Linked DNA regions of Homo sapiens. The protein of the gene in region 1 purifies or fractionates together with the protein of each later gene. This does not show direct contact. Each region holds a gene or a part of one and is shown in the gene's direction. Other genes may lie near its edges. The genes, in order: RAB15, TSEN15, HERC1, OBI1, MTR, RAP1GDS1 and PPP6R1.

Region 1 (4,299 bases):
TATGTTAAGATTGGAAGGAAGGAGGCTACACCCCCCATCATTTAGGGCGAGACCCTGAGAGAGTTCCTCAGGATAGCATGATGAAGTTTCCACAGTAGCAGAGGGTGCTGCTGTGGCTCTCTGCCTGAGGTCTTGGAAGCACTGCCTTTGCCAGGGTTTAGAGCTCCCTCTCAATTCCACAGCAGTATGGGCACTGCCTTCAGAGGTCCCATAGGGACTAGGGGTGTAGCAGCATCCCCTGCCAACTCCCATCCAACCAAATCTGGCCACAGTGGCCAGATTCCAGAGAGCTGTCCAAGGCCTGTTCTGGCTGTGGCTTCTGGTTTCTGCCAGGAGGGCAGTTGGCAGGAGGGGCCAAGGCCCTGCAGGCCTGGTCAGCACCAGCACAGATGACCAGGCCTCTGACTGCAGATCCCTGTGGGGATCCAAGCATCCCTGGTTTTTCACCCTTTAGCTCCCCAGTTTTTCCTACAAGGGGACAGCTCTGCTCTTCCCCTCCCCGTCTGTTCCCATGGTCCCTGCTCCTCTGAGGGACTGGCTTTCTCCTGCAGGGACACTGCAGGGCAGGAGAGATACCAGACCATCACAAAGCAGTACTATCGGCGGGCCCAGGTAAGCCACCACATTGGGGGTTTCAAAGTGGGAAGCTGCCACCCACACTCCCAGCTCTGGGTATTTGAGATGTCTGTGCCACGGATCCCCTAAATACAGTTCGCCTGCTTGGAGGAGCGCAGGGCGTCTTTCAGCTGTTCACTGATCATTTGTCCGTCCATTGTTCATGGCCCACTCACTGCAGGCAGGCCCCTGCCCTCACCCCTGACTTCCACCCTCCATCCTGGGTCAAAGATCCAGGTCAAAGCATGTGGTGTCTTCCTGCTGTAGAGAGTTCTGTGATGGGCCTGGGAGGCGGCAGTGGTGGGGTCTGAGAGAAGAGATATTTCTGGATGCTGAGCAGGGAGAATGGGAGAGTGGGACCCAACCTTTAAGTTTCCACGGCCCCTTCTGGCCCCATGACTGCACTCTCTCTGTGCATATCACATCTCTCTATTTCTCTCTCTCTCAGGGGATATTTTTGGTCTATGACATTAGCAGCGAGCGCTCTTACCAGCACATCATGAAGTGGGTCAGTGACGTGGATGAGGTAGGAGATGCCACCTCACTGCCGGGGTGTGGAGAGGGTGCCTCACCGGGGAAGGCAAGGCGAGGGCCAGATGGGAAGGCAAATGCTTCCAGGAAGCTTTGCCTTCCACAGCCCTGGATGAAGACCTCTGGGTGAGTAAGACATGGGGAAGAAACCGAAGCTGCCATGCCCTCACTCTCTATACCCTGCCAGGCCTCCACGGCTGTGTCTTTCCCGGAAATGAATTAGTTCCAAGTCTTCCCTGTGAGCAGCTTCTTTCCTGAAATCTTGGGACCAGGTGGAGTTGCAAGATTGGGATCTAGTCCTGGCTCTGCACAATAGCTGTGGAGCCTTGGGAAGCCATTTGAATCCTCTGGGTCCCCAGTTCCTGTAGAATGAGGGCTGGACTTACATCCAATGTCCTTTCCAGCTCTGATACCAGTGGTCTAACCCAAGGAAGCACCAGTCTTAGCCAGAGTGTCTTCTACCCTAAGCTCTCCCCGTGATACCCTTGAGGTCAGCCATGGCACTTGGGGGAGCCTGGCACCTGCATCCAGTCGGCCCACCCTGTCCCTAGGGCTCTGGAATTGGTGGTGGGCTGGAGGCAGTGCAGACTCTGTAGGGAAAATTGGGGGGGCAGGCAGCACTCACTGGCTGTTCTGCCCATCCTTTGTCCCTAGTACGCACCAGAAGGCGTCCAGAAGATCCTTATTGGGAATAAGGCTGATGAGGAGCAGAAACGGCAGGTGGGAAGAGAGCAAGGGCAGCAGGTAAGTGGAGGGAAAAGGCAAGTCCACCCCAGGTCCTCTGCTGGGCCTCCAGGGCCAGTCCTGAGCGTGGGGACCTAGGGGTGTGTTCCCCAGTGGCAGGTCCTCCCACACGTCCCCAGCACCCCAAGGCCCTGGGGGAGTGGCCATCCTCGGAAGGCTTGTTGTCTGGGTTTCAGGACAGAAGCCCAGAGATTCGGGGTCCATCCAGAAACAAAGACGTCATAGGCAGCAACTCTCCCAAGTCCAGGTCCCCAAATGCAGGATTGCCCTCTGCTTAAGAGATCATCCCCGTGTTAGTAATGAAGGACTTCAAGTTGTCAACCTCTTCTCTGACAGCATCCAGGCCTAGCTGCCATGTTACGGTCGAGAAATGATCTCCCATCCCACCCAACACTCCCCCACTCCTGTCCTTCTTACCCAGGAAAGAGCCAGGGAGGCAAATGAGGAGACAAAGAGCCACAGCTGGAGAAGCCATGGGGGCAGAAAGGGTAGGAGGATGACGCTGAGGGAATGTCCAAGCATGCAGGGAGACCATCCTCCCAGAGAGCAGAAAGAAATATTGGTTATTTTTTTTTTCTTTCTTTCTTTTTTTTTTTTTTTTTGAGATGGAGTCTCGCTCTGTCACCCAGGCTAGAGTGCAGTGGCGCCATCTCGGCTCACTGCAACCTCTGCCTCCTGAGTTCAAGCAATTCTTCTGCCTCAGCCTCCCAAGTAGCTGAGATTACAGGTGCATGCCACCACGCCTGGCTAATTTTTTTGTATTTTTAGTAGAGATGGGGTTTTGCCATATTGGCCAGGCCGGTCTCGAACTCCTAACCTCAGGTGATCCACCTGCCTCAGTCTCCCAAAGTGCTGGGATTACAGGCGTGAGCCACTGTGCCCAGCCAAGATTGGTATTTCTGAGATAAGTTATCCACTCAGTCCGTGGACCTCAAGAGTTTTCCTCTCCCTTTTCAGTCAATAGCGTTCCATTAGTACTTAAAATGAAATTGATTGTTTGGTATAAAATATAAGACATGGTCATTGACCAATTTGAAAGTAGAGGCAAAGCCTACTAGGATAGTATTTATTGAGCACTCTATGTGTGGCACTGTGCTAAGGCAAGCGCTTTTAAGTGCACGACCCCACTGAATCATCCCACAACCATGGATGGGAGACACACTCAGTCTCCTTTAACAGAAGATAAAGCTGGGGCTTACAGAGAATGTACAACTTGTCCAAGGTCACACAGCTAGCCATCAGTGGCAGTGCTGCTATTCAGGTCTGGGACTGTGGGACTCCAGAGCCCATGTTTTTTACGAGGATGCCATACTGCCACAATGGATGGTGTCTTTATCTCCTGATATATGATTGTGTGTTGGGAGGCGTGGGGTGGCAGCTGGAAGAATGGAGAGGCATATTTGTGGAGGATCTTCCCCCATTCTCTGCTACCCTCTCTTGGAGCTCCCAGTCCCATCTGAGAAATTATCTACTCTGAGAAATCGTCACAACACAGCATGGTTGTGAGTGCAGTGGCAGAAGCCTGTGCCTGGTTGTATGGGCCCCTCCCCTGCCTTACTGACTCTCTTTCAGAAATGTCCTTCTCTTGCAGCTGGCGAAGGAGTATGGCATGGACTTCTATGAAACAAGTGCCTGCACCAACCTCAACATTAAAGAGGTGAGAGCCCTGGTGACCAGGCGCCCGCTCTCTCGGGCTGAGTCCAGCAGAGGTGGGAGGAGGAGCCATAAGATGGACCTTATCCCTCAGGCCGCTGCAGGGTTGCCAGGGGAGAGGAGGAGACACTGGACTAACCTGTGCCCTTTGGTTTCCAGTCATTCACGCGTCTGACAGAGCTGGTGCTGCAGGCCCATAGGAAGGAGCTGGAAGGCCTCCGGATGCGTGCCAGCAATGAGTTGGCACTGGCAGAGCTGGAGGAGGAGGAGGGCAAACCCGAGGGCCCAGCGAACTCTTCGAAAACCTGCTGGTGCTGAGTCCTGTGTGGGGCACCCCACACGACACCCCTCTTCCCTCAGGAGGCCCGTGGGCAGACAGGGGAGCCGGGGCTTTGCCCTGCTGCTGTCCTCTCGTGTGATGACCCTATTGAGTATCAGTAGCCACTACTCCCCCTGCCTGGCCCTGAGAGCGGCTCTGCTGTCATCTCAAGCAGCCCCTGTCCCCAGCCCGTCCACCCTGGAGTGGTCTTCTTCAGCCTGTTTCCCCAGCCACAGGCCTGCTACGACCCCCACGATGTGCCGCAAGCACTGTCTCACCATCCCGCACCCACCAGACAACAGCCAGGGCTGGAGTCCAGGCCACTTTCAGCTGCTCCTTTCTCCGTGCATCGTGTCTCTTCTCTGCTTTTTCTCTCTTCCCCCACTTCTCTTTCTCTGACCCCTCCCCTCCGGTGCGTTTCGTATCAAAGCTCCTCA
Region 2 (4,299 bases), on another chromosome or scaffold:
ACCTAGAAGAATTTTATAGATTATATATGCTTGATGACCACTTGATGATTGGAAGAAAATATTAAATAATTTTTTCTTCTCAATTTGACAATTATATTTTAATTTTCAGTATCTAGAAATGATGGAATTAGATATAGGAGATGCCACCCAAGTTTATGTAGCGTTCTTGGTTTACCTGGACCTCATGGAAAGTAAGTTGTTTGTTTATATTGTTTTGTTATTGGGACTGTGGTAGAGATTTGGGGGGTTGGATTGGGATATAGCATTCTTAACATAATAAGCAATCTTTTATGCATTTGCTGTTAATTTTGCAATTTATTTATTTACATTGGGAATTACTGAGTAACAGAAGCTACTAGAAAAGCAAAGACAGGAGGTAGTGTTACGAGTGATATTTGCTCAGCTGAGTATTAGGTAGAAGTTTGGAGTTTTTATTTTTTGTATTTAATAAACATTATTGTCCATTCAATGATGCTCTTTCAGGCAAAAGCTGGCATGAAGTAAACTGTGTAGGATTACCAGAACTCCAGCTCATCTGCCTTGTTGGTACTGAGATAGAAGGGGAGGGGTTACAGACTGTGGTGCCTACCCCCATCACTGCTTCCCTCAGCCATAACAGGTGAGCAGGTGATTTTGGTCTAAGTTCCTTTCCCGAGTAAAGCAGTAGGAAACATTAAACATAGTGATGTAATACTTTTAATGAAATTTGGGATACAGGGTTCATAGCTTTACTCTTGGCTATTTGAGGAATAAGTTAAATATGAGTGTTGTATTCGGCCATTCTTGCATTGCTATAAAGAAATACCTGAGACTGAGTAATTTCTTAAAAAAAAAAGAAGAGGTTTAAGTGGCTCATAGTTCTGAAGGCTTTACAGTAAGCATGGTGCTGGCATCTACTCGGCTTCTAGGGAGGCCTCAGGAAGCTTATAATCATGGAGGAAGTTCGTGAAGCAAGAGCAGGCACATCATATGGCAAAAGCAGGAGTGAGAGAGAGTGTTGAGGGGGAGGTTCCACACACTTTTAAATGACCAGATCTCACGAGAACTCATTGTCCTGAAGACAGCACTCAGCCATGAAGGATTTACCCCTATAACCCAAACATCTCCCACCAGGCCCCACCTCCAACATTGGGGATTACAGTTCAACATGGGATTTGGGCAGGAACAAATATACAAAGTATATCAAGCATTCAACAAGTATTTATTTAGCACTTACTCTATGGTCAGTACTTTTTCAGAGACAGTATGTATGGTAGAAATATTTATATTCTTGGTAAGGAAGCAAGACCATTACATATGAAATAACAGCTGTTATAAGATGTACCATGTAATACAAATTATACTTTATATAGCAGTTGGTGAAAAGCATGATTAACATGCAAGCTGAAATCAAATTTTCATGTAGCTTTTTTTAAAAGCTTTAAAAAAGAGACTTTTTTTAGGACCTTTTTTTAAAAAGCTTAGGTACACAGCATTGGATTAAACATGTCTTTGTTTCATGACATACTCTCATTATTAGTTCATGCTTGGTTTTTATTTATTTACTTAGTTATTTTTAATAATGTAATAAGTATCTCTGTACCCATCACCCAAAGCAAAACTAGATTCTTGATAATAACTAACATCTAATCTTATAAGTCCCTTCCTTAACGTGCTTTCACTGACCTGAGGTAACTCATTCTGAATTCCATGTACATTGGGAATTTTTAAATTTTAGATGTTTTTAACTTTAATTAAAAAATCTTATCTTTTAAGGCTGACCTTATACACTTAATATTATATTACTAAAATTCATCCATTCTTGTGCATTTTTTGAGCTGCCACATAACATTCCATTGTGTGATTATACCACCATTTTTACATCCACTCCCTCGATGATGGAGTGTTGCTAATGTTTAACTTTAGGAGATAATTTCAAACTATTTTCAAAGTGGTTGCCTCAATTTACTTTTCACCTGCAGTGTAAATAAGATCCTTTGGAGCTGTATTGTCTCTCACATTTAGTATTGTCAGACTTTTAAATTTTTGCCAATGGAATGGATTATTCTTATTTTGGTCTTAATTTACATTTCCCTTATTACTCATAATACTGAATATTTCTTTATATATGTATTATTTATAAGAAATATCTGTTCATATCTTTTGCCTGTTGGGTTGTTTTTAGTTTTCTCATTGACTTGTATGAATTCTTTATATATTCTTGACCTAATAGTTTTTTTATTGTGTTTTCCAGTTTTTAAGTCTGTCTTTCACTGTCTTAAGATGTCTTTCAATGAGTAACAGTTCTTAATTTGAATATAATCATATTTATCCATCTTTTATAATCAACGTCTTTGTGTCTAGTTTAAGAAATATTTTCTATCTAACGGTCTAAAAAATACTTATATTTTCACTAAGAGTTCTATTGTTCTTGTTTTTAATGGTGTGAGAGGCGGTTAGGGATACCATTGTCATGTGGATAACCACTTTTTCTACCTCCATTTACTGAATAGTCCCTCCTTTCCTCACTATCTGACATATCACTTCTGCTACTTTCCAAAGTTCCAAACATGCATTAATTTGTTTCTGGGTTCTCTATTATATTCCATTAGCCAGTTTATCTGTCCTTTTGCCAATACCATATCTCTTAATCGCTTGCTTGGTAAGAAGTCTTGGTATCTGGTTAGCAAGCCTCCCTTATGCATTTCTTCTTTAGAAGCTGTAGCAGGCAGCTTCTAAGATGGCTTCTCCTAATTCTGGTATTCACTCCCTTATGTAACTCTCTTCCCTTGAGTGTGACCTGGACTCAGTGACTTCTTTCTAATGAATAAAATTTGGCAAAAATGATAGGAATGTAACTTCTAAGATTAGGTTACAAAAGACTGTGGCTTCTATCTTGGGCACTCTCTCTTGCTTACTATAAAGGAAGCCAGCTGCCACGTGAGCTGTCCTACAGAAAGTCTGAAAATAGAAAAGAGATGACAATTATTGATGGAGCAAGATTCTTGAGAGATGAGGAAGGATGGATTCAAGAGGATAGTGGAGGAGAGTAATATTGAGCATGTAAAGGGGTGCTGTAAACCTCTGAGAGTGGGGTATGGGAAGAATGAACAAATGAAAACACAGCTCTATTTGGGTGGCATATAAGTAGGGAAAAGAGCAGAGCCTCTTAAATTCCAGCATGAATACCGTTGATGAATACTTAACATTTTTTCTAGCTGACTATGACTGAATACATAGCAGTCTAGTAGAAAGAGCCCCAGACTATAAAGTCTTAAGACCTGGGTTCTAGTCTTGGGACTGACACTTAACATTTTGTTTGATGTTTAGCAACACACCTAATTTCTCTGGGTTTCAGTTTCCTCGTCTTATTTTGTTGTTGAGGGATTTAGATTACCAGTACATGCAAGATCCCTTCTAAATTAAAGCTGCTGTAACTGGTTATTTTCATTGTGCATATTTCATAAAGCCATATTAAACTAAATTTGCAGATTTCTATGAAGTATTTTTTGTATTTATTATTCATAATGAGAATTGTTTTTTAATATGTCAGTCTATTCATATGCTTCTTTGAGAAGCTCCTTACTGTTTTCTCTGTGTTTGAGAATTACAAATAGTTGTTAGCATTGACATCAGATTTAATCGCTAGTACTTTCCGGTTTTTACTAGCATGATTTCCAAGCCATCCTATATCCAAGAGTCTTAATTCATTCCTCAGAACTCATTACTTCTGTCTTTTAATTACTGTAACAAATATTGTCCTAGCTAGTATTAATGTTATATTATTTGTTTGGACAAGGAGCTACTATTTGAAATTAACCTGCATTTATTCCTAAAAAATAAAATTAATGAAAGCAATAGCCTATTTTAATCAAAATCATTTCATAAGTCTAGAAGTACAAATTTGTTTCCATTGTTAATTTCTAGTATTTTCCAGGTGGTAATTAATGCTTTTCTAGCTTGAATGGCTAAAGCTTGTTTTCTTCTTCAAGTAGAATTAGTTGGAATGATAACTTGGTAAGCCATTTTGATGCTGTTGCATTTAATAACTGAGAGAGCTTAAATCTTTATGTCTTGTTTTTATATAAATATTCTTAACTATATTATACAGTAGAATACTAATATAGAATGTAGCACAAATGAGGCCTGATACATACTAGATTTATATGCCTTTTAGTGCATAACATTTTCTCAACTCAAACTATGCAAATAACTTTTTAACAAATGGAAATGTGTGGGTGTATATGTGTGTATGTGTGATTTCATTATTCAGTCTTTAACAGGGCAGTCTTTTAGGTAGTAGGCATACTTTTATCTATT
Region 3 (4,299 bases), on another chromosome or scaffold:
TGTGCCCTGGTGTCTCCCATACAGGCTGGCACACACTTGGTACGTAGTACATGGCTGTTTGAGTGAATGGATGACTCTAATTTTGAGATGATTGTGGTTTTCTAGGACTGGCACCTGGGAGGTAAATGTGATGTCTACTTATGGGGTGCTGGTAGGCATGGACAGCTGGCAGAAGCTGGAAGAAATGTAATGGTACCTGCAGCAGCTCCCTCATTCTCACAGGCCCAACAGGTAACTAACAGGATAAAAAATAGAAAAGAAACATGGGAACTGAAAATTCTAATTCTTTTGCTTGTCTTATTGTGGGATAAAGCTTGTCCATTTCATAATCTATTATGAGGAATCATTAAAGAAAGTCATGATATATAGCTTTCAAATAAAAACTTGGTGTGGTTTTTATCAGACTTAAGAAGTTAACAAATTTCTAAATTTTTCTTTCAAGTTTAATGAACTAACATCATGATGTGTTAGGCCTGCCCAGTATGTATTTCTAGCAGTTTAGATACTCCTAATTAGTGATTTTCTCTTTGGGGCTAAAAACTTCCTAGGATCTTTAGCCAGATTTTATCGACCACTCCCCTTTTCTAATAATCCTGGTACGATATAGCGCCAAACCCTTCTCGAGGCCTCTGCTTTCTCTTTTGCTCTTCTTTACCTCAGCTAGTCCAGATTGCATGACTCATTCTTATGTACGAGTTTCTGCTTCTTTCTAGCCCAGTCTTTAATGTTTCCCCATCACCCCTTCCTTTTTCTTTCATCCATTTTGTTGTTCTAAACTATTTTAAATGGATGAATCTCATACATCTCTTGGTTAAATAAGCAGTTTTATAGTCATCAAGGAGTTACGGGACTGCATAGTTATATCAACTCTTCCCTTTCAGTAAAAGGATAAAACAATTATAAAAGCATTCTATGTATACGTGGAATCATTTCAAGTGCTTGCATGTTAAAGCAATATAATAAAGAATAAAATATTTAATTCTGTGTTTTTATACTAGGTCATTTGTGGTCAGAATTGTACCTTTGTCATCCAGGCCAATGGCACAGTGTTGGCTTGTGGGGAAGGAAGTTATGGCAGATTAGGACAAGGAAATTCAGATGACCTTCATGTGCTGACAGTTATTTCAGCCTTACAAGGTAAAATTGTCCTTAATAAAAAGATGGTTAGAACCTAAGGCCTAATGTAGGTTTGGTCGTACAAACCTTTGCCCTTCTCAAACCTTTGCTAGATAAAATCATATCAGGTTTTCACTTACATTTAAATCCTTATTTAGGCATGTGTGCAGCCTTAATTTCCATATTTTAAGCTATATTGCAGGTTACTTATAGCAATGCTAGAATTCAGTGAAATATAAATAACACTTTTTGAGACCCACTGAAGATTGTAAACAAATGCTTAAAAATTGCAAAAGTGTAAGTAGGCAGATGTTAATAGCAGTAGCAATCATGCATGTATTTCATTAAAATTAAAAATCAGTTTATATGGAAATCTGCAAATGTGCTAAAGACTTTAAAGGACATCTTCATCAGAGTTCTTTGTGACTTGGAGAGAGAACACCTTTGGAGAAACCACTGTACAAGCCCCCGGCTTGCTCATTAACTGAACTCATAATGACTCTGAAGCCTACAAAGAGAGCACCGACGGTTTTTTTAGGTAAAAGCATACAAGTAACTATGAGTTCAAAACAAGTTCCTAGAAGCTCAGGTTCTTTTCATTGTGATCTGAGTGTGAAGAGCACAGCAGTAAAGATGAGAATGTGTGCTGGGTTCCTATGGGTTCTACTGGTCCTTGGCTCTGGGACATTGCACAAGCTTCGAGACCTCTTTGTGACTCAGTTTTCCCACTTGTAAAAATGGGATGTTAGTATCTGTTTCATAGGTGCTATGTGAAAGTAGAAAATGAGATAATCCATGTAAAGCATTTATAGGAGTGGCTAGAGCATAGCCAGTCATTAATGACTGTAACTATTGCTGTCATCCTCGTTTTCCTTGTCATCACCATTATTTTAGGTGACTATTCGCAGTTTTGCTAGGTTATGGCTACAAATTCAATTTAAAACTAAAGAAATTAGGCCGGTTACTGTGGCTCATGCCTGTAAACCCAGCGCTTTGGGAGGCCGAGGTGGGCGGATCACTTGAGGTCAGGAGTTCATGACCAGCCTGGCCAGCATGGTAAAACCCTGTCTCTGTTAAAAATACAAAAATTAGCCAGATATGGTGGCACATGCCTGTAATCCCAGCTACTCAGGAGGCTGAGGCAAGAGAATCACTTGAACCGGGGAGGTGGAGGTTGCAGTGAGCCGAGATCACACCACTGCACTCCAGCCTGGATGACAGAGTGAGACTCCATCTAAAAAAAAAAAAAAAACTAATGAAATTATTCTTATTTTCATAGTACCAATTCGGTGGTTTTTGATTGAGGGTATTCAGTAGCAGCTGCAAGTAAAGAGGAGAGTTTTAACATCCAGTGACTCCTGTTGGGTTTCTGTTCTGTTCCAGGCTTTGTGGTGACCCAGCTGGTGACTTCCTGTGGTTCTGATGGGCACTCTATGGCCCTAACTGAAAGTGGTGAGGTCTTTAGCTGGGGAGATGGTGACTATGGTAAACTTGGCCATGGGAACAGCGACAGGCAGCGGCGGCCCAGGCAGATCGAGGCCTTACAAGGAGAAGAAGTGGTGCAGGTCAGGCAGGAAATGGATAAGTTTGCCTTTCATTGTAAATATACTAGTTGTTGAATAGGTTTCTTAAAATTAGGTAACAGAAAATATAGTAAAAATATATTACACAGTAATTATAAGAGATCCATTGGTTTTGGATGTTCAGATTCATTCTTGAGCTTGTCAGAAGTTTGAATAGGCTTTGGTGTTAGTATTGGTCTTGTTAGTATTGGTTAGAATGGTCTTTTTCGTGAGCCAGCTGGTTGGCCCAGACTAGGGTGCTGCACGCCCTTGGAAGGAATATTGTGTGGTTTAACTTCTGCCACACAGTTCTTAATACACAGATAAAAGGAAAACTTTGCTTTTAACCTATCATTTATGTTACAAAAGCTAAGTTAACATGCATTTTCTGGAAAATAGTGTTCTAAAATCATATTGTAAGATTGTATAGCACCTTATAGTTTACAAACAATTTCCCCATTTATTATCTCATTTAGTCTAGGTCATGTGTACACAGCTGAAGAGTAGCAGTAGTTACTCCAGGGTATGCTGTTCAGCTTGGGCTTCCTGAGGCTGTTGAGACAGATCAGACTTGGGAGAGCAGGAGAGCAACTTGGGCAGATAAATGTACCAGTTGGCCAGATGCAGTGGCTTATGCCTGTAATCCTAACACTTTGGGAGGCCAAGGCAAGAGGATTGCTTGAGGCCAGGAGTTTGAGACCAGCCTAGACAACATAGCAAGACCCTGTCTCTACAAAAAATAGAAATAAATAGCCAGGTGTGGTAGCACATGCCTGTAGTCCCAGCTACTTGGGAGGCTGAGGTGGGAGGATTGCTTGAGCCCAGGAGTTTGGGGCTGCAGTGAGCTGTGATCACACCACTGCACTCCAGCCTAGGTGACAGAGCAAGACACTGTCTCTTTAAAATTTAAAAAAAAATTAAAAAAAAAAATTTTTAAAAGCATTGGTCTTTGAAGATCCAGTTTTCAGTGAAGTTTATGTAAAGTTTATTGCTATATTAATACCAAAAATGGCAGATTTACTTTTTTCTTAGTTTCCCTTCTTAAAAATTTTCTTTCTCCTTGGTTCTGTCTTAGATGTCTTGTGGCTTCAAGCACTCAGCAGTGGTCACTTCAGATGGCAAACTGTTCACCTTTGGGAATGGTGACTATGGTCGTCTGGGTCTTGGAAATACCTCTAACAAAAAACTTCCAGAGAGAGTGACTGCACTGGAGGGATATCAGATTGGACAGGCATGGAATAAATCAATAAGATATTCTAGCTGATCATTGTTTCTCATTTCTTCTGTGTTCGCTTAGACACCCTCAGGAAGATCAGGATCACCAGTTGTACCTAACCTCATGTACATTTTGCTATGGTCTAATTGATAATTTTAACTGTTTCCCAATGTGAAATTCATATTTTAAGTCAATTTAAGTTTGTTTATGTGACAAACCAACAAATGTAACCCTTATTTCAGGACGTGAATATTTTTAAAGCCCCCTCCATAACATACTAATACCACTTGCTATTAAACCCTTAAAAAATACAGATACTAGTAGCTCCTGTCTGGTATCCTTGAGTTGTATGGCTGAATTGCAACATCACTGGTAGCTACTGCTCCTAAGTAGTAATTATCTCTG
Region 4 (4,299 bases), on another chromosome or scaffold:
TACCTAATTTCTTCATGCCTTTGTTTTCTTATTTGTAAAGCATATTTACCCAGTTTACCTCACCAAGTTGTGGTATTTTTAAAAAAAGAGATGGAAAAGGGTTGGGGCGGTGAAAGATGCATGTGAAAGCCGTTTGTAAAATATGACTACAGGCCAGGCGCGGTGGCTCACGCCTGTAATCCCAGCACTTTGGGAGGCCGAGGTGGGCAGATCACCTGAGGTCAAGAGTTTGAGACCAGCCTGACCAATGTGGTGAAACCCCGTCTCTCCTAAAAATAGAAAAATGAGCTGGCGTGGTGGCAGGCGCCTGTAGTCCCAGCTACTCGGGAGGCTGAGACAGGAGAATTGCTTGAACCCAGGAGGCAGAGGTTGCAGTGAGCCTAGATGGTGCCACTGTACTCCAGCCTGGGTAACAGAGCGAGACTCCGTCTCAAAAAAAAATGCTATAAATGTAAGGTATTATTATTTGTGCTTGTTTAAATGGAGCCTGGAGTCAAAGATTTGTGTATTTGGTGTATCTCAGTAATTCTGTCTGCATTGTTTGCTGTTTAGATTATAAACTACTTGAGAGTGAAGCTCATGCCTTTTGGGTTGTTTTAGCTTTCATTACTGTTTGGTTTTGGGGAATTTCTAGTAAAGTATCAATACAATATTTAATAGTTGCTGTTATTCTGTAACAGTGGAATGAATTGAGAAAAGGATTCGGGCATCAGATGGATGATTGTGCTAAATGATATTTTCAAAAACCTAATCCTGCTGTTCTATAATGCTAAAATAGAAGAGTTTGAGCAAAATTGTCCCAGCCTTAGTGGAACAAAAAGCATTTTCTTTTTGGCATGAATTCTGTGGTTTAGGTACAAAATAAAGCATTTTATATGTCAAAAGCTTCAGTCTCCATGATCCAGTATCTCATCTAGTATCTCTGTTAAACATGTGTAAAAAGAAAAGTGACCAACAGAAGCAGTGTTTTTAAAAGCGCTAGATATCCCTTCTTAAACTCCTACTCTGCTATAATCTAGAGAAGCAGTTTGCTGTAAACTAAACCATTTGATCTTCTAATTATGACCGTTGTCCTGTACTAAAAGTGATTTCTTTTTTCAAAGGTACGTCAGCCTGTCATATGCATCAACAACCATGTATTTTGTTCGATTTGTATTGATTTGTGGTTGAAGAATAATAGCCAGTGTCCAGCTTGCAGAGTCCCCATCACTCCTGAAAATCCTTGCAAAGAAATTATAGGTAAGGGCCTGTTTTATATATGCATAGGAATAGGTTTGAAACAATCTCCAAATAATTTATATTTCGAGGAAGACTGAAATAGGCTATTTTCAGTGATGCTATTTGGCCAACATAATACTGAGTGGTTGAGTAATTTGTGTAATGTATATGTGGAGCAACTGGGGCACAAGGCACTGAGAGGTGCTAAGAGGAATAACCCTGAGAGCCTCACGGAACTTACATTTTCATAGCAACTGAACCAAAAGAAAAGCAGCAAGTGCTAAGGGCCCCAAAAAAGCCCAGAGAGTTCAGGCAAGAAACTTCAGCTAAGAACACCGAGAAGGGCTTCATAAAGTAGGTGGCCTTTAAGCTGGACATTTAAATTTAAGGATGGATAACATTTCAACGGTGAAAATTAAGGAGGGCATTTCCTGCAGGGAGAATAGCATGAACTAAAAAGTTTAGATACAGGAAAACCCAGAGCATGTTTTTAGAAATGATCAGTAGTCTACTTTGGGTCCGACTACTGAGATAAGACAAAAGGTAAATTGAGACTTTAGTGCAGAGAACCTTGAATGACAGCTAAATCAGGGACTTGCTCTAGGACTAAGAAGAAGGGTGAATTGGGCATGATGGTTTTGAGCAAGGGAGTGGTATGATCCAAAATGTGCTTTACAAATATTACTTGTGGTAATACATAGGTTGGACTATAGGAGTAGACAGGATGTGAGTAGGTCTGGTAGGAGGCTTTTGCCTAGGTGATAGAAAATGTAAGTTTGGATTAAGGGTGAAAACAAATTCTATGTCACATTAATATTGGTGGGGTGGGGGAGGAGTAAAGCTTGAACTAGAGGATCCTTGAAAAGGAGAACTTCTAAAGAGCCTTTTTAGAGTTTGGTTTTTATTCTACTCATATAAGTTATTTATTTTAGGTTGCAAAAATTAAAATGATTTCTACTTGTTTTTGCTATAGGAAAAATTGAAAGTGAATCTACAATTAGCCAAGTATAGAAAACATTTTTCAGAAAACTTAAGAAGTCATTGTAATAGTCCCAAGTTAGGGAAAATGGACTTAAATAAGATTTTTTTTTTTTGAGACAGAGTTTCGCTCTTGTTACCCAGGCTGGAGTGCAGTGGCGCGTTCTCGGCTCACCGCAACCTCTGCCTCCTGGGTTCAAGCGATTCTCCTCCCTCAGCCTCCTAAGTAGCTGGGATTATATGCATGCATCACCACGCCCGGCTAATTTTGTATTTTTATTAGAGACGGGGTTTCTCCATGTTGGTCAGGCTGGTCTCGAACTCCCGACCTCAGGTGATCTGCCCGCCTTGGCCTCCCAAAGTGCTGGGAATTACAGGCGTGAGCCACCGTGCCCAGCCAAGATTTTTACAAAGGAAATAGAAAGGAATATATATGCTACAGAGCAAAAGAAGAACTAGTAGGACTTAGGAAATAAGAGATCTGAAGGCGCAATCAGAGTTGGCTCTTGGTACCTGGGTGAAGTCTGGTAGAGGACTGGTTCTCTGCTGTGTTGCATGCTACGGGGTTAACCTCTATCTGTTTTTTTTTACCTGCTGAATTTCACCAAGGAGTCAAGTCTTTTCTTGCAGAATATGAGCTTTGATGATTTGAATATTTTCCCCCAGCTTTTCTTCTCATCCCATATCCTACCTTTATTCATTCATACCTAAGTGATATTTCATAAATTCTCTCAAGGAAAATAGTTCATCCATTTTTGCATTTGGATAGAACATCCTGAAAAAGAACACCTGTAAAATACCTTTGCTATTATTATAATGCTAAAAAATACAAAGAAGGTAACCAGAGCATCAGTGAAGAGCTCTCAGGAAGAATTCATTGTGAGTGCATTTGTAACAAGTCATGACATAGAGTTAATGCCATGACTTACAGTCCATTGTAACTAGCCTGTTAGAATCCGTGAAAAGACACATTAATCTATATACATAGGTATATAGCAGTAATACTTTTTTTTTTTTTGAGACGGAGTCTCGCTTTGTCGCCCAGGCTGGAGTGCAGTGGCGCAATCTCGGCTCACTGCAAGCTCCGCCTCCCGGGTTCATGCCATTCTCCTGCCTTAGCCTCCTGAGTAGCTGGGACTACAGGCGCCAGCCACCACGCCCGGCTAATTTTGTTTGTTTGCATTTTTAGTAGAGACAGGGTTTCACTGTAGCCAGGATGGTCTCTATCTCCTGGCCTCGTGATCCGCCCGCCTCGGCCTCCCAAAGTGCTGGGATTACAGGCGTGAGCCACTGCACCCAGCCAGTAATACATTTTTATATAATCTCTTGGTTAAATGTAAATGTAATAATTGGTTTTATTATTTAAATATAGTCTAGTTTTCAGAATTTGAAGTAGTCCAAATGTGATAATTACAGCCCTTTCCTCCACTGAGTTTGCTGTGATAAGATATGTAGATATGTAAATACAATATGATGTGTTACTGAAGGTATTTCTTATGGTGTTATTTGATATATTTTTTTTTCCTCAAGATTAGGGTAGAGAAAAGGCCTAGATGTAAGCCCCAAGTGTGTATGTAAGGGGAAGGGTAGATGTGAAGCTGGGAAGCTATATAAAACAATATGAAAAAGGATCATTTTCATTCTTCCCGAATCAGAATGAAAAATTAGGATTTTTTTTTTTTTCCCTACAGGAGGAACAAGTGAAAGTGAACCTATGCTAAGCCATACGGTCAGGAAGCATCTTCGGAAAACTAGACTTGAATTACTACACAAAGAATATGAGGTAAACAGTAATCAAAGTTTAAAATTATGTTAGCAGTGAATTCAAGGTAAAAACTGACCTACCTCAGTCCCCAGACTTCTTAGAGTAAATATCCAATGAAATTTTATTTTAAAAGCCTATAAAAAGAAATTGTTTGATAAATTCTTTTTTCTTTTTTCCTTTCGTATTTTAAATAGAGGAAAGAGATTTTTTGTTTTATTTTTTTTCTTTAAGTACCAAGGAATGGGGGAATGGGATTCCAGAAAAAAGGAACAGATGGAAGCATTTCTTTCTTTTTTTTTTTTTTTTAAGTTAAAATTTGTACCTCCACAGACATATCA
Region 5 (4,299 bases), on another chromosome or scaffold:
TTGTTTGTTGTTTTTATTGTAATTGGCTTATTTTTTCTTTGGTAAATTTTTTCCCTTTGGTATTGATTTTTAGATTTTTTCCCTTGGAAACTTCCTTTTCTTCAGTGTTTCCCTTCCTACTTGTCAGTGTCTCTCTTGAAAGGCACAAACATCCGTTTCCATCACTTCTGTTTTTTTTGTTTTTGTTTTTGTTTTTGTTTTTTTGAGATCAAGTCTCACTCTGTCGTGCAGGCTGAAGTGCGGTGGCGTGATCTCAGCTCACTGCAACCTCCGCTTCCCGGGTTCAAGCAATTCTCCTGACTCAGCCTCCCAAGTAGCTGGGACTACAGGCCTTTGCCACCACAACTGGCTAATTTTTGTATTTTTAGTAGAGATGGGTTTTCACCATGTTGGCCAGGCTGTTCTCGAACTCCTGACCTCAGGTGATCCACCTGCCTCAGCCTCCCAAAGTGCTGGGATTACAGATGTGAGCCATTGTACTGGGCCGGGCCACTTCTTTTTTTAATTACAGCCCCAGGATGGGCCTCTGCTTCCTCCAGGGTTCTCTCGCCCATCTTCAACTACTTCAGTTCGATTTTAAAACTTTAACTCACCTCTGAAGTTAGCCCTGTTCGATCTCTGCTCCTTGTCAGACTACATTAAAGAATCTAGATGTCTTCTACACATTGTCCTTCTCTTCCTCACAGTGTCTGCCTTGATGACCAAATCAAAAATTGTTTTATTGCATTACTGCCTGAGTGTGTGATATTTTAGCAGAATCTGAGCCATGAGCTTCTTAAGTAAAGCCTTCTACTCACTGGTCACAGTCTAGCTTCTCTATGGCTTAAGAGTAAACCTGTTTGATAAAGCTATAAATGGCATTTATTCCTTCCTTCTTGCTGCTTAGAATCTCACTGAGTTTTTCTTCTACTCCAACTGAAGAAGGTGCCACATCTCACCTGTTGGTGGTTCTCACCTGGCTTTATATTAGCATCACTAAGGGGCTTTTACAAAACACTTGCTGAGACCCCATCTCCAGATTCTGATTTAACTGGTTCAGGGTGAGGTGTTACTATTATAAAAAACAAGCAAACAGAAATCCCTCCAGGGTATTGTAATGTGCAACCAGAGTTGAAAGCCCTTCCTGATGGAGTAAAGCTGCCATTCCGTTGTTTTACTGAACTTCTATTCTGGATCTCTGAAATCCACCAGCACGATTGAGGCTTTATTAGTGTGTCTGTCCCACAGCCCTGGTGAGGAGTAAGACAGAAGCTTGGTGAACCTTACGTGATATGAGATATGACCTGCTCCTGACAAAGGCCTGTACACCAATGCCGTGTTCACTCTGAGAGTCATTGTTTAATCAAGTGACAGAGGTTGAGTATCTGTTAATGTGGCACAGATACTGTGCTAGACGCCATGAGAACAATTTGACAAGGGCTTCATCCTTATGGAGGTTAGAGTTGATGACTCTGTTTTGGTTCTAGAAATGAATTCCTGTCCTGTGAGGATGCACCTGCTTGTCCCACAAGCAGGGCTGTCTTTGGTATACAGCTGGGCCCTACACCCTACTCTCCTGTGGGTAACATACTGTTCACTTCAACCTGCCCTGCTTGGCCAGATAATATTCATGGCTCAGATGAGGAATGACCAGGACCTTGACTTCTTCATCTACCAACCAGACTAGGTTACTCAGTAATACTAGTAGCATTGGTCGCCCCTGTGCCTTCTCTCTTAGTGAGCTTAGATGAGCCATGAACCTAGAGCCTAGAACTCTATTGGGCTGTCTGGTGAAGGGTAGACTTTAAAAGTTCAAGCCTAAAGGCAGCTGCAAATGGGCTGTTTCTGACCAGTTTTTTCTGACATACATCTCAGTCTCAACCTTAACCTTTTCACTCTAACTGAAGGCAGAGGAAGTAAGCATTGAGAAAATTCCATTAAGGAAGACGAAAGCTCGCCACCTTCCCTAAAGCCTGGGTGCAGTGAGGCCACAGAGACCACTTCCTGTCTCCCTTTCCCTGGGCCATTTTGTCTGCTAAGTCCTGGAGGCACTTCCCTCCCAAGTAGAGGTGAAGTCTCACCCCACCAGCTGCAGAGAGCGATTAAAGAGACCAAAGAAAACAGTTGAAAAAGAATACCAAAGTAGTAAGTGATCAAAAGGCTAGATCTAAGAGAGAGTTCTTTTCATAATTCCCCTACTCCTCATTTCTGTTGTCTAGGGCCTCACTAGATGCACTTGACCTATGTCCGTGTCCCTACCCCCTCATCTCCACAGAAGTCTGCAATATAGATTGCAGTAGGGTTGGCCATTTTTCAAGAACATTTTTCGCGTTCATTGAGAATTGACCTTCAGAATTGTGACTTATTTTTTCTTATCTCTGGAGTGATAGCAAGTAATCATTTTTTAAGAGTAGATTTGATTTTTCATACAACCAGAAATAATTCAGGATGTAATTTGGTGAATACCCTGTGTTGAGGTTGTAAATTTGATCTGAAGACAGTTTCCATGACAAAGTTCAGAAATACTTTGAGTAAAAGCAGCATTCATACATAATGTTGAGCACCTACTTTGACAGGCACTGCTCAGGGCACTGGGGATAAAGCAAGACTGGCATTCTATCTAGGGGAGAGGAGTTTACCAATTAACAAGTAATAAAACAACGAAAAATACTAAAGATGTTGCCAAAATAATACAATTTCTGGAAAGAAATACTCCGAAGAAGAATGGAGGAGGTGGGGAAGGGTGGAAGTGGCTGGTTTAGAGAGGGTGATTTAAGGTAGGCTCTGAAAAGGGGGCACTTGGGCAGAAGCCTTAGTTCTGTGAAGCACAAAGCCATGTCATGGTATGTTCTGGTAGTGGCAGCAATAAATGAAAGTTGCTGAGGGAGGAACAAGCTTGACGGGTTTCAAAAACACCAAAGGAGCAATGTAGGAGGTGCGGAGTAGAGGAGAGGGCAAATGGTAGGAGATGAGATTGGAGATGGAGGCTGAGATTCTGAGGCTTTTGGGAAGCAGCTGGGGGATGAGCCTTGCCGGAGTTAGTGTTTTGCCTTTTAGGGACATTATTTTGAAGGTAAAGACTAATTTGTATTTATGACTTAAGACACATGTTAGGCCAGTGTTAAAATGGGTGAAGGTGAGGAATAAATGCATATCCTTGAATATGCTTAGAATGTTTTTGCAAGAAGATCTGAGAAAGCAATGGCAGTGTTTCCTGGGTGATAGGTTGTGACACTGCTGTCAGGTCAAGAGAGGAAGGGGCACTTACATGTTAATCTCTTCTTTAGTAGTATTTGATTTTTTATCATATGCATGTATTTTTAGAAGCTTTTTCATAATATACCATATGTGTGTATATGTTTAAGGTTTGATTTTTTGCAGAAAGAGTATAGCTGCTGTGTTTGTGAAAACACAAAGAGATCTTTAAACCAGTCTCTCCTCTGAGATAATTTGATAAGTGATCGGAAGCTGCTTGGCATTTAGATTTCTGTGAAATCCAAGCATTGACACTTGAGTGTTTTCAGTGAGTGAAATGTGCTCTAATGTATAACACTTAATATTTTAATATTAATATTTTATTAAAATAAAATAACAGGTATTTAATATTAATATTTTAATAGATAATTTTTCTATTTCAAACTACATCTTTTGCTCTTTTCCCTAGGCAACAGAAACAGACACAAAAATCAGAGTGTGCACCCGGGCCTACCATCTGCTTGTGAAAAAACTGGGCTTTAATCCAAATGACATTATTTTTGACCCTAATATCCTAACCATTGGGACTGGAATGGAGGAACACAACTTGTATGCCATTAATTTTATCCATGCAACAAAAGTCATTAAAGTAAGTGTAGGCATGTTCTCTCCCAAGTCATGGCTCAAATTTGTCCCATGGGTCTAATGAATGGTTAGAACTAACTTATATATTTATTGGCTGATGAAATGTTAACATTCTTAGTTAGTAAATTGTTTTTCTGAAATGTAGGAGACCTTATTTTTTTTCTTTAGTAGAGTTTTAACTTGTGTAACAAACAGACTGGAGAACATAACAGAGCCTGATGAACTCGCTTGAACCCAGGAGGGTGGAGGTTGCATTGAGCTGGGATCACGCCAGTGCGCTCTAGCCTGGGCGACAGAGTGAGGCCCTGCCTTGAACAAAATGATGCAAAACAAAAAAACCACAGAACCTGATAAATAATTAATTATGAAGCATATAAGAGCCTTCACTTAGGTCCCAAAATAGAGCATAGCTAGCGCCCCCGTCTGTCTCTCCTTTTCCAGTTACACCTCATTCTCAATTTTATAAAGTAGCTATTGTCC
Region 6 (4,299 bases), on another chromosome or scaffold:
ATGGTAGATAACCAATAAATGAACAAATGAGCTATTTTAAAGATCACAATAGTGAGTACCCAGGCCAGCAGTTCAGCAGCTGATTTAGTATCTAGATTATATGATTTTTAAATTTTTTAAATACTGTTTTCTTGTTGGGCGTGGTGGCTGACACCTGTAATCCCAGCACTTTGGGAGACTGAGGTGGGCAGATCATGAGGTCAGGAGATCAAGACCATCCTGGATAACATAGTGAAACCCCGGGTCTACTAAAAATACAAAAAAAAATTAGCTGGGCGTGGTGGCGGGCACCTGTAGTCCCAGCTACTCGGGAGGCTGAGGCAGGAGAATGGCGTGAACCCGGGAGGCGGAGCTTGCAGAGAGCCGAGATTGCACCACTGCACTCCAGCCTGGGTGACAGAGCAAGACTCCGTCTCAAAATAAAATAAAATACTGTTTTCTTTTTCTTTTTTGAGACTGAGTCTTGCTCTCTCGCTCAGGCTGGAGTACAGTGGCACAATCTCAGCTCATTGCAACCTCCACCTCCTGGGTTCAAGCAATTCTCCTGCCTCAGCCTCCAGAGTAGCTGGGATTACAGGCAGGCGCCACCACACTCGGCTAATTTTTGTATTTTTAGTAGAGATGGGGTTTCACCATGTTGGCCAGGCTGGCCTCAAACTCCTGACCTCATGATCCTCCCACCTTGGCCTCCCAAAGTGCTGGGATTACAGGCATGAGCCACCATGCCCAGCCTTTAATACTGTTTTCTAAGGTGACCCTTTCAGTCATTTCTCTTGTACAACTTCAGTAGTGATTATATATGAGGAGAAAGTTTAGAACTCAAATCCACCAGCTGTTTTCATTTATTTTTAGAACAGATAAGAAGAAGATGCCAAGAGAAAAAACGTAAAACTAAAGCTGTTCTTGTATAAATCTCTTTCATATAAATAATTGGCTTCACCATAATAGCTGTCCCAGCTGGTAAGCCTCAGGAGTGTTCTTCTCCATCAGATGCTAAATCTTGAGAACTTTCCCTGGGGAAAAGCAGCTGTTAACTAGGACCTTCCTATTACCTGTCTCACCCAGACCACCCTAAAAGCTCATACATTTTTCCTGACACAGGACCAAGCAGTATGTTGGCAAGGTGGAAGTTGTCAGGAGAGAATAGCAAAATGGCTTCCTTGGTACCCCTTTGACCCCTTCTCCATCATAACTGCTCTCTCACGCCCATTTGTTCATTTAACAGTTAATATTTGAGTTCTTGCAGTGTAAATACTAAAAAATAGTGTTTCTATAAAGGAATTAACTATCCGTTGAGGGGACAGAAATAAAAACAGCTAGCTTAAGTACAGCTTTAAAGCTACGTATGCTATTCGGGTGTAACAGAGGAAAGAAAGACTAACACACTGTCTGGGTAATCTGGGATGGTGCCATAGAAGGAGTGCTATTTTAGGCGTTAACTAGGAATCTCAGGAGGAAAGGGAAAGAGAATGAAGGAAAGGGCCTTTTCAGGCAAAGACAGCAGGATGTACAAAAGCACAGAGATGTAAAACAGCATAATTTTTTAAAGAAACTGCAAATAAAGCAGTATTGCTAGAACACAGAGTGTAGAAAGAGACAGTAGCCAGAGAGGTTGAAAACTGGGAATTAAGTGAATTATATACCAAGTTAAGATATATGGACTTGATTCTGTAGAGAATTCGGGAGCACTTAAAGGGTTTTAAGCAGCAAGTTGCCATTATTTGAGGGTTTTTTTGTTTTCTTTATTTTTTGTTTTTTTGTTTTTTCGGGGTTTTTTTGAGACAGAGTTTCGCTCTTGTTGCCCGGGCTGGAATGCAATGGTGCGATCTCCACTCACTGTAACCTCCGCCTCCCGGGATCAAGTGATTCTCCTGCCTCAGCCTCCTGAGTAGCTAGGATCACAGGCGTGCACCACCATGCCCGGCTAATTTTGTATTTTTAGTAGAGACGGGGTTTCTCCATTTTGGTCAGGCTGGTCTCAAACTGCCGACCTCAGGTGATCCGCCTACCTCGGCCTCCCAAAGTGTTGGGATTACAAGCGTGAGCCACCACACCCAGCCATTTAGTTTTCATTTAGAAAGATGTCTCTAGGGTTTAATGGGGGTAGAAAGGACAGTTATTGCAAAAATATATATGAGAGTTGATAAAGGACTGAATTAAGGTTTTGAGTTGAGCAATTTGAAATTGCTGATATTCAGCCATTTTTGAAACAAATTTCATATGGGTTATTCAACTAGAAGCAGCGAGGATGGAAAAGAAGAGACAGACCTGAGAAAAATATGGGTGGTAGAATTGACAGATTCAACAGTAGAATTAAAGGAGGAGGTAGTTTTAGAGCTAATTCCAAGTTTGGGGTTTACCACCAGATTGGGTTATCATGCCATTCAACAAAATAAAACACTATAGGAAGAGGTGCAGCTAACACTCCCTAAACTTGCCCACTCGCCCATGCTCTTTGGAGTCATTACCCTTAATCTTTTTGCTCTACTCCAAGAGAATCTCCACCATTGGTTTGCAGGGGTATACAATCATTTGGATTTCCCTGGGCCATATTGGAAAACGAATTGTCTTGGGCCACACATAAAATGCACTAACACTAACAATAGCTGATGAGCTTAAAAAAACAAAAATCACAAAAAAAACTCAAACACCTGTGGCATTTGAAGAAGAAGAGAAATCTAAAAGTTTAGAAAACCAGCTGAGTGCGGTGGCTCACGCCTGTAATCCCAGTACTTTGGGAGGCCAAGGTAGGTGGATCATTGTGGTCAGGAGTTCCAGACCAGCCTGGCCAACATGGTGAAACCCCATCTCTACTAAAAATGCAAAAATTAGCCAGGCATGGTGGCGTGCGCCTGTAATCCCAGCTACTGGGGAGGCTGAGGCAGGAGAATTGCTTGAACCTGGGAAGCGGAGGTTGCAGTGAGCCAAGATCGTGCCACTGCACTCCATCCTGGGTGACAGAGCAAGACTCCCAAGACTCTGTCTCCAAAAAAAAAAAAAAAACAAAGAAAACTTTTGGAAAACATATTTGGGAGAATAATCAAGGAAGACTTCTCCAGTCTTGCTAGAGACCTAGACGTCCAAATACAAGAAGCTCAAAGAATACCTGGGAAATTCATTGCAAAAAGATCATTGCCTAGGCATATTGTCATCAGGTTATCTAAAGTTAAGACAAAGGAAAGAATCTTCAGAGCTGTGAAGCAAAAGCACGAGGTAACCTATAAAGGAAAACCTATCAACTTAACAGTGGATTTCTCAGCAGAACCCCTACAAGCTAGAAAGGATTGGGGCCCTATCTTCAGTCTCCTTAAAGAAAGCAATTATCAGCCAAGAATTCTGTATCCAGTGAAACTAAGCTTCATAAATGAAGGAAAGATACAGTGTGTTTCAGACAAACAAATACTGAGAGAATTCACCACTACCAAGCCAGCACTACAAGAGCTGCCAAAAGGAGCCCTAAATCTTAAATCCTGGAAACACATCAAAACAGAACCTCTTTAAAGAATAAATCTCACAGGACCTACAAAACAAAAATACAATTAAAAAAAAAGTGGGGGGTATACAGGCAACAGATAGCATGATGAATGGAATAGTACCTCACATCTCAATACTAAGATTGAATGTAAATGGCCTAAATGTTCCACTAAAAGATACAGAATTGCAGAATAGATAAGAATTCATTAACTATCTGCTGCCTTTAAGAGACTTACCCAACACATAAGGACTCACTTAAGGTAGAGGGGTGGAAAAAGACATTCTATGTAAATGGATACCAAAAGTCAGCAGGAATAGCTATCTTGTATCAGGCAAAACAAACTTTAAAGAAACAGCAGTTCAAAAAGACAGAGGGACATTATATAATGATAAAAGGCCTTGTCCAACAGGAAAATATCACAATCCTGAATATATATGCACCAAACACTGGAGCTTCCAAATTTATAAAACAATTGCCAATAGACCTAAGAAACAAGATAGACAGTAACACAATAGTGGGAGACTTCAATACTCCACTGACAGCATTAAAGAGGTTATCAAGACAGAAAGTCAACAAAGAAACAATGGATTTAAACTATACCCTAGAACAAATGGACTTAACAGATATTTACAGAACATTCTACCCAAAACTGCAAAATATACATTCTATTCATTAGCAAATGGAACTTTTCTCCAAGATAGACCATATAATAGACCACAAAACAAGCCTCAATAAATTTTAAGAAAATTGAAATTATGGCAAGTACTCTCTCAAACCACAGTGGAATAAAACTGGAAATCAACTCCAAAAGGAACCTTCAAAGC
Region 7 (3,668 bases), on another chromosome or scaffold:
CTGGGCGACAGAGCGAGACTCTGTCTCAGAAAAAAAAAAAAAAAGGAATCTAATTCAAATGAGTTAAGTTATGAAAAGAAAGGGATAATCTCTGTGGCTGAAAAAATAGGCAGGTCCTGAGGTATGGCTTGGTCTGTGTGTGTCTCTCTCTTCCCGCCTCCCTGTCTCCTTCCTTCATCCCTTCACTTCACTTCCTCGTGTTAGCTCTCACACGTTTTCCTAGAAAGGGGGGTAAGATGGTCCCAGGCAGCTTCTCTCTTCTCTAATTCCAGTAAAATGAGAGATGATGACGTCCCTCTCCAATCAGGCTGTGATGACATTTTAGTGCAAATGTTACATTGTTTTTTTTTTTTCTCTTAATACTGGCCGGCCCCAGAGTCGCTGTGATGAAATGGGTTCATGCCATGTAGATTTGACAGCCTGAACACTAAGTCATCATCTGCAACTGAGTTTTTGACTCATGACTTTTGATTTCGGAATTAGGCTGTTTTCACTTTTTATTGACATGTAACATGCGTATAGACAAGTGTACATACAGATCCTGAGTGTGTGGCCAATGGATATCCTTCCTCAGTGCCCAGACCCAGGAGCAGGACCTTCCCAGTACCCACATCCCCTCTGTTAGCCAGTATCCTCCCTTCTGAGGGTAAAGTTGTCCTGGCTTCTAACCCTGTAGATGAGTTTTGTCTCTGTTTTCACTTGATATAGCATACAGCATCTCCTTTTATGTCTGACCTCTGTTGCTCAACACTCTGCTTGTGAGCTCCTTCCCTGTTGTGTGTTTGGGTGCCCCTGGCTCTCGTGCAGTGGGGCAGTGCCATGCATGATGAGCTGCAGCTGAATTGCTTGTTCTGCAGTTGACAGGCCTTTGGGCAGGTTCCTGTTGCTCGCTGCTGTGAGTGCAGCCGCTGTGAGTGCGGCCGCTGTGAATACCCTTGCACGTGTTGTTGGTGCACAAGTGTGTCACTGCCAAATCCAGCATCTTGACTTAGCCCTCTCTTTTCTTCTAAGAGTTTTATAGCATTATTTCTATGGTTTTCCATTCATTTTGAGCTAAATTTTGTATATGATGTGAGGTGGTCCACCTTCATCCCTTTACATATAGATAACCAGTTTTCCCTGCACCAGTTGTTGAAGACACTGTCCTTTCTCCACTGAATCATCTTGGCACCTGTGTAAAAAGGAAATATTTGACCATATGTATGAGTTTGTTTCTTCCCTCTCTGTTCTGTTCTATCAGTCTGTGTGTTGTTTTTATCCAGTACCACACTGGCCTGGTTGCTGTTGCTTTATAGTAAGTTTTGAAAATGGGAGGTTTGTTGGGCACGGTGGCTCACACCTGTAATCCCAGCACTTTGGGAGGCCAAGGTGGATGGATCACCTGAGGTCAGGAGTTTGAGACCAGCCTGGCCAACATGGTGAAACCCCATCTCTACTAAAAATACAAAAATTAGCCGGCTGTGGTGGGTGCCTGTAATCCCAGCTACTCAGGAGGCTGAGGCAGGAATATCGCTTGAACCTGGCAGGCAGAGGTTGCAGTGAGCTGAGATCGCACCATTCATTGCACTCCAGTCTGGGTGACAAGAACGAAACTCCATCTCACAGAAAAAAGAAAATGGGAGGTTTTAGTTTTCCAACCTTGTTCTTCTTTTTAAAGATTGTTTTGCCCTATTTGGGATTTCTTGAGATTCCATATGAATTTTAGGATCAGCTTGTCAATTTCAACCAAGAAGCCACCTTGCGTCTTCTAATACGTGAACATGGATGTCTTTTTATATAGGTCTTAAAATTTCTTTCAACAATGTTTCGTAGGTTTTAGAGTATGAGGCTTTGTATTTCTTTTAAGTTTATTCCTGTTTTCTTCTTTCTGTTACTATTGTAAATGGAATTTTCTTGAAATTGTTTTCAGATTGTTACAAGTATATGAAAATACAATAGGTTTTTGTATGTTGATCTTTCATCCTGCAACCTTGCTGAACTAATGTATGAGTTCTGATAGTTTTAGTGGACTCCTTAGGATTTTCTATGTACAGAATCATGTCATGTGAATAGAGTTCATTTTCCTTCCTTTCAAATCTGGATGATTTTAATTTCCTTTTCTTGCCTGGTTGCCCTGGCTAGCCTCCGGGACAATGTTGAACAGAAGTGGCAAGAACAGGCATCCTTGTTTTGTTCCTGATCTTAGGGGGAAGCATTCAGCGTTTTGCCATGTAAGCATGCTGTTAGTTGTGGGGTTTTGTAGATGCCTTATGTTAGGTTGAGGGGCTTCCTTTATACTCCTTAGTCGTTGAGTATTTTAGTTTACTTTTAACTATATACAGATATATTACTTTCCAGTTAAAGTAGTCAGTTACTCTGTTAAGACAAAAATATTGGGTCAGCATTTTAGACATAGTATATAGTCCCATACTGCATCTTTGGGTCAGCGATGGACCACATATGACAGTGGTCCCGTGAGATTATAATCCTCTATTTTTGCTGTATTTTTCCTATGTTTAGATACACAAACATTTACCATTGTTAGAATTGCCTGTAGTATTCAGTACTGTAACATGCTGTATAGGTCGGTAGTCTAGGAACAATAGGCTATACCACAGAGCCTAGGTGTACAGGAGGCGCCACCATCCAGGTGTGTGTAAGTGCACTCTAGAATGTTCACACAATAGCAAAATCGCCTAATGATGGCGTTTTTCAGAGTGCACCCTCGTTGTTAAAGCTTAGTTTTAGTGTTACTTTGCTTACCCCTTCCCCGGTTGATCAGCACGTAGGTTGCTTGGATTTTCTTCATGCTCACAGGTGTGTGTTAGTCAACATTCAGCCAGTGTTTTTGGAGCAGCTATGGGTGCCTGGTGGTTTCTCAGGGCTGAGGATACAGCAGTGGCAAAACTCAGCCATCTCTGCCTTCTTGGAGTTTCTAGTTGGAGGGAGAGAGTAGTGTGAAGCCTCTGTCCAGAGGGTGGGCCTGCTGGTGGGAAGGCCTGTCACTGTGGTGACCGTGTGAGGTGACGGCTGGGAGGTGGCTTGAGAGCTGGTGAGTGGGTCTGTCTGCTCTGGTTGCCATGGCTGAGGCTCAGCCCACTTCCCCAGGGCCTGCCCTCCACGGATGACTGGCGACGGACGGTCTCCTTACGGCCGCATTCTGTCCCTGCCCGCCTGTGTTCTTGCCGTTGGCTCAGAACTCCCTCTCCCAGCCTCTCCTGGTGTCGTCACACCCCAGGCTCCCTGGACCCTTCTGTGACCTGCCTGTCATCCCAGCCCGCTCTCCTTGGGCTGACCCTGGGCTGCAGGGAACAGGATGGGTGTCGGCCGGTCTGTCCCACACAGCTAGCTGACGAGGTGGTTTCTGGGGCAGGAGTGGAGGCAGCACAGACAGTGAGGACGAAGAAGAGGAGGACGAGGAGGAGGAGGAAGACGAGGAGGGCATTGGCTGTGCAGCCCGTGGAGGGGCCACCCCTCTGTCCTACCCCAGCCCTGGCCCTCAGCCTCCAGGTGAATGAATGGGCGGTGTGGTCAGGTGTACACAGGGCTGTCTGCCTGCTACTGAGTTCACCCTCCATCCCGCTCCCCCACCTCTATCCCAGGCCCCAGCTGGACAGCCACCTTTGACCCAGTGCCTACAGATGCCCCGACCAGCCCCCGAGTCTCCGGGGAGGAAGAGCTGCACACTG

Evidence for each region.
Region 2: the proteins of RAB15 (region 1) and TSEN15 purify together in Homo sapiens (affinity purification with mass spectrometry; one large-scale study listed by BioGRID and IntAct). This does not show direct contact.
Region 3: the proteins of RAB15 (region 1) and HERC1 purify together in Homo sapiens (affinity purification with mass spectrometry; one large-scale study listed by BioGRID and IntAct). This does not show direct contact.
Region 4: the proteins of RAB15 (region 1) and OBI1 purify together in Homo sapiens (affinity purification with mass spectrometry; one large-scale study listed by BioGRID and IntAct). This does not show direct contact.
Region 5: the proteins of RAB15 (region 1) and MTR purify together in Homo sapiens (co-immunoprecipitation; one large-scale study listed by IntAct). This does not show direct contact.
Region 6: the proteins of RAB15 (region 1) and RAP1GDS1 purify together in Homo sapiens (co-immunoprecipitation; 3 studies listed by BioGRID and IntAct, with this or other methods). This does not show direct contact.
Region 7: the proteins of RAB15 (region 1) and PPP6R1 purify together in Homo sapiens (co-immunoprecipitation; one large-scale study listed by IntAct). This does not show direct contact.

What each region holds. Positions count from the first base shown.
Region 1 is NC_000014.9:64,947,916-64,952,214, reverse strand, and holds part of RAB15 (ras-related protein Rab-15), read left to right. Parts: intron 1-551; coding exon 552-612; intron 613-1,063; coding exon 1,064-1,141; coding exon of another isoform or gene 1,142-1,272; intron 1,273-1,800; coding exon 1,801-1,890; intron 1,891-3,481; coding exon 3,482-3,547; intron 3,548-3,702; coding exon 3,703-3,861; 3' UTR 3,862-4,299. UniProt on the Homo sapiens protein: The small GTPases Rab are key regulators of intracellular membrane trafficking, from the formation of transport vesicles to their fusion with membranes.
Region 2 is NC_000001.11:184,054,245-184,058,543, forward strand, and holds part of TSEN15 (tRNA-splicing endonuclease subunit Sen15), read left to right. Parts: intron 1-109; coding exon 110-191; intron 192-483; coding exon 484-619; intron 620-3,916; exon of another isoform or gene 3,917-3,996; intron 3,997-4,299. UniProt on the Homo sapiens protein: Non-catalytic subunit of the tRNA-splicing endonuclease complex, a complex responsible for identification and cleavage of the splice sites in pre-tRNA. It cleaves pre-tRNA at the 5' and 3' splice sites to release the intron.
Region 3 is NC_000015.10:63,634,343-63,638,641, reverse strand, and holds part of HERC1 (probable E3 ubiquitin-protein ligase HERC1), read left to right. Parts: intron 1-105; coding exon 106-231; intron 232-998; coding exon 999-1,137; intron 1,138-2,499; coding exon 2,500-2,681; intron 2,682-3,753; coding exon 3,754-3,909; intron 3,910-4,299. UniProt on the Homo sapiens protein: Involved in membrane trafficking via some guanine nucleotide exchange factor (GEF) activity and its ability to bind clathrin. Acts as a GEF for Arf and Rab, by exchanging bound GDP for free GTP.
Region 4 is NC_000013.11:78,641,802-78,646,100, reverse strand, and holds part of OBI1 (ORC ubiquitin ligase 1), read left to right. Parts: intron 1-1,103; coding exon 1,104-1,239; intron 1,240-2,548; exon of another isoform or gene 2,549-3,075; intron 3,076-3,887; coding exon 3,888-3,979; intron 3,980-4,299. UniProt on the Homo sapiens protein: E3 ubiquitin ligase essential for DNA replication origin activation during S phase.
Region 5 is NC_000001.11:236,846,701-236,850,999, forward strand, and holds part of MTR (methionine synthase), read left to right. Parts: intron 1-3,643; coding exon 3,644-3,823; intron 3,824-4,299. UniProt on the Homo sapiens protein: Catalyzes the transfer of a methyl group from methylcob(III)alamin (MeCbl) to homocysteine, yielding enzyme-bound cob(I)alamin and methionine in the cytosol. MeCbl is an active form of cobalamin (vitamin B12) used as a cofactor for methionine biosynthesis.
Region 6 is NC_000004.12:98,421,784-98,426,082, forward strand, and holds part of RAP1GDS1 (rap1 GTPase-GDP dissociation stimulator 1), read left to right. Parts: intron 1-4,299. UniProt on the Homo sapiens protein: Acts as a GEF (guanine nucleotide exchange factor) for the Rho family of small GTP-binding proteins (G proteins) that stimulates the dissociation of GDP to enable subsequent binding of GTP.
Region 7 is NC_000019.10:55,231,896-55,235,563, reverse strand, and holds part of PPP6R1 (serine/threonine-protein phosphatase 6 regulatory subunit 1), read left to right. Parts: intron 1-3,352; coding exon 3,353-3,489; intron 3,490-3,581; coding exon 3,582-3,668. UniProt on the Homo sapiens protein: Regulatory subunit of protein phosphatase 6 (PP6). May function as a scaffolding PP6 subunit. Involved in the PP6-mediated dephosphorylation of NFKBIE opposing its degradation in response to TNF-alpha.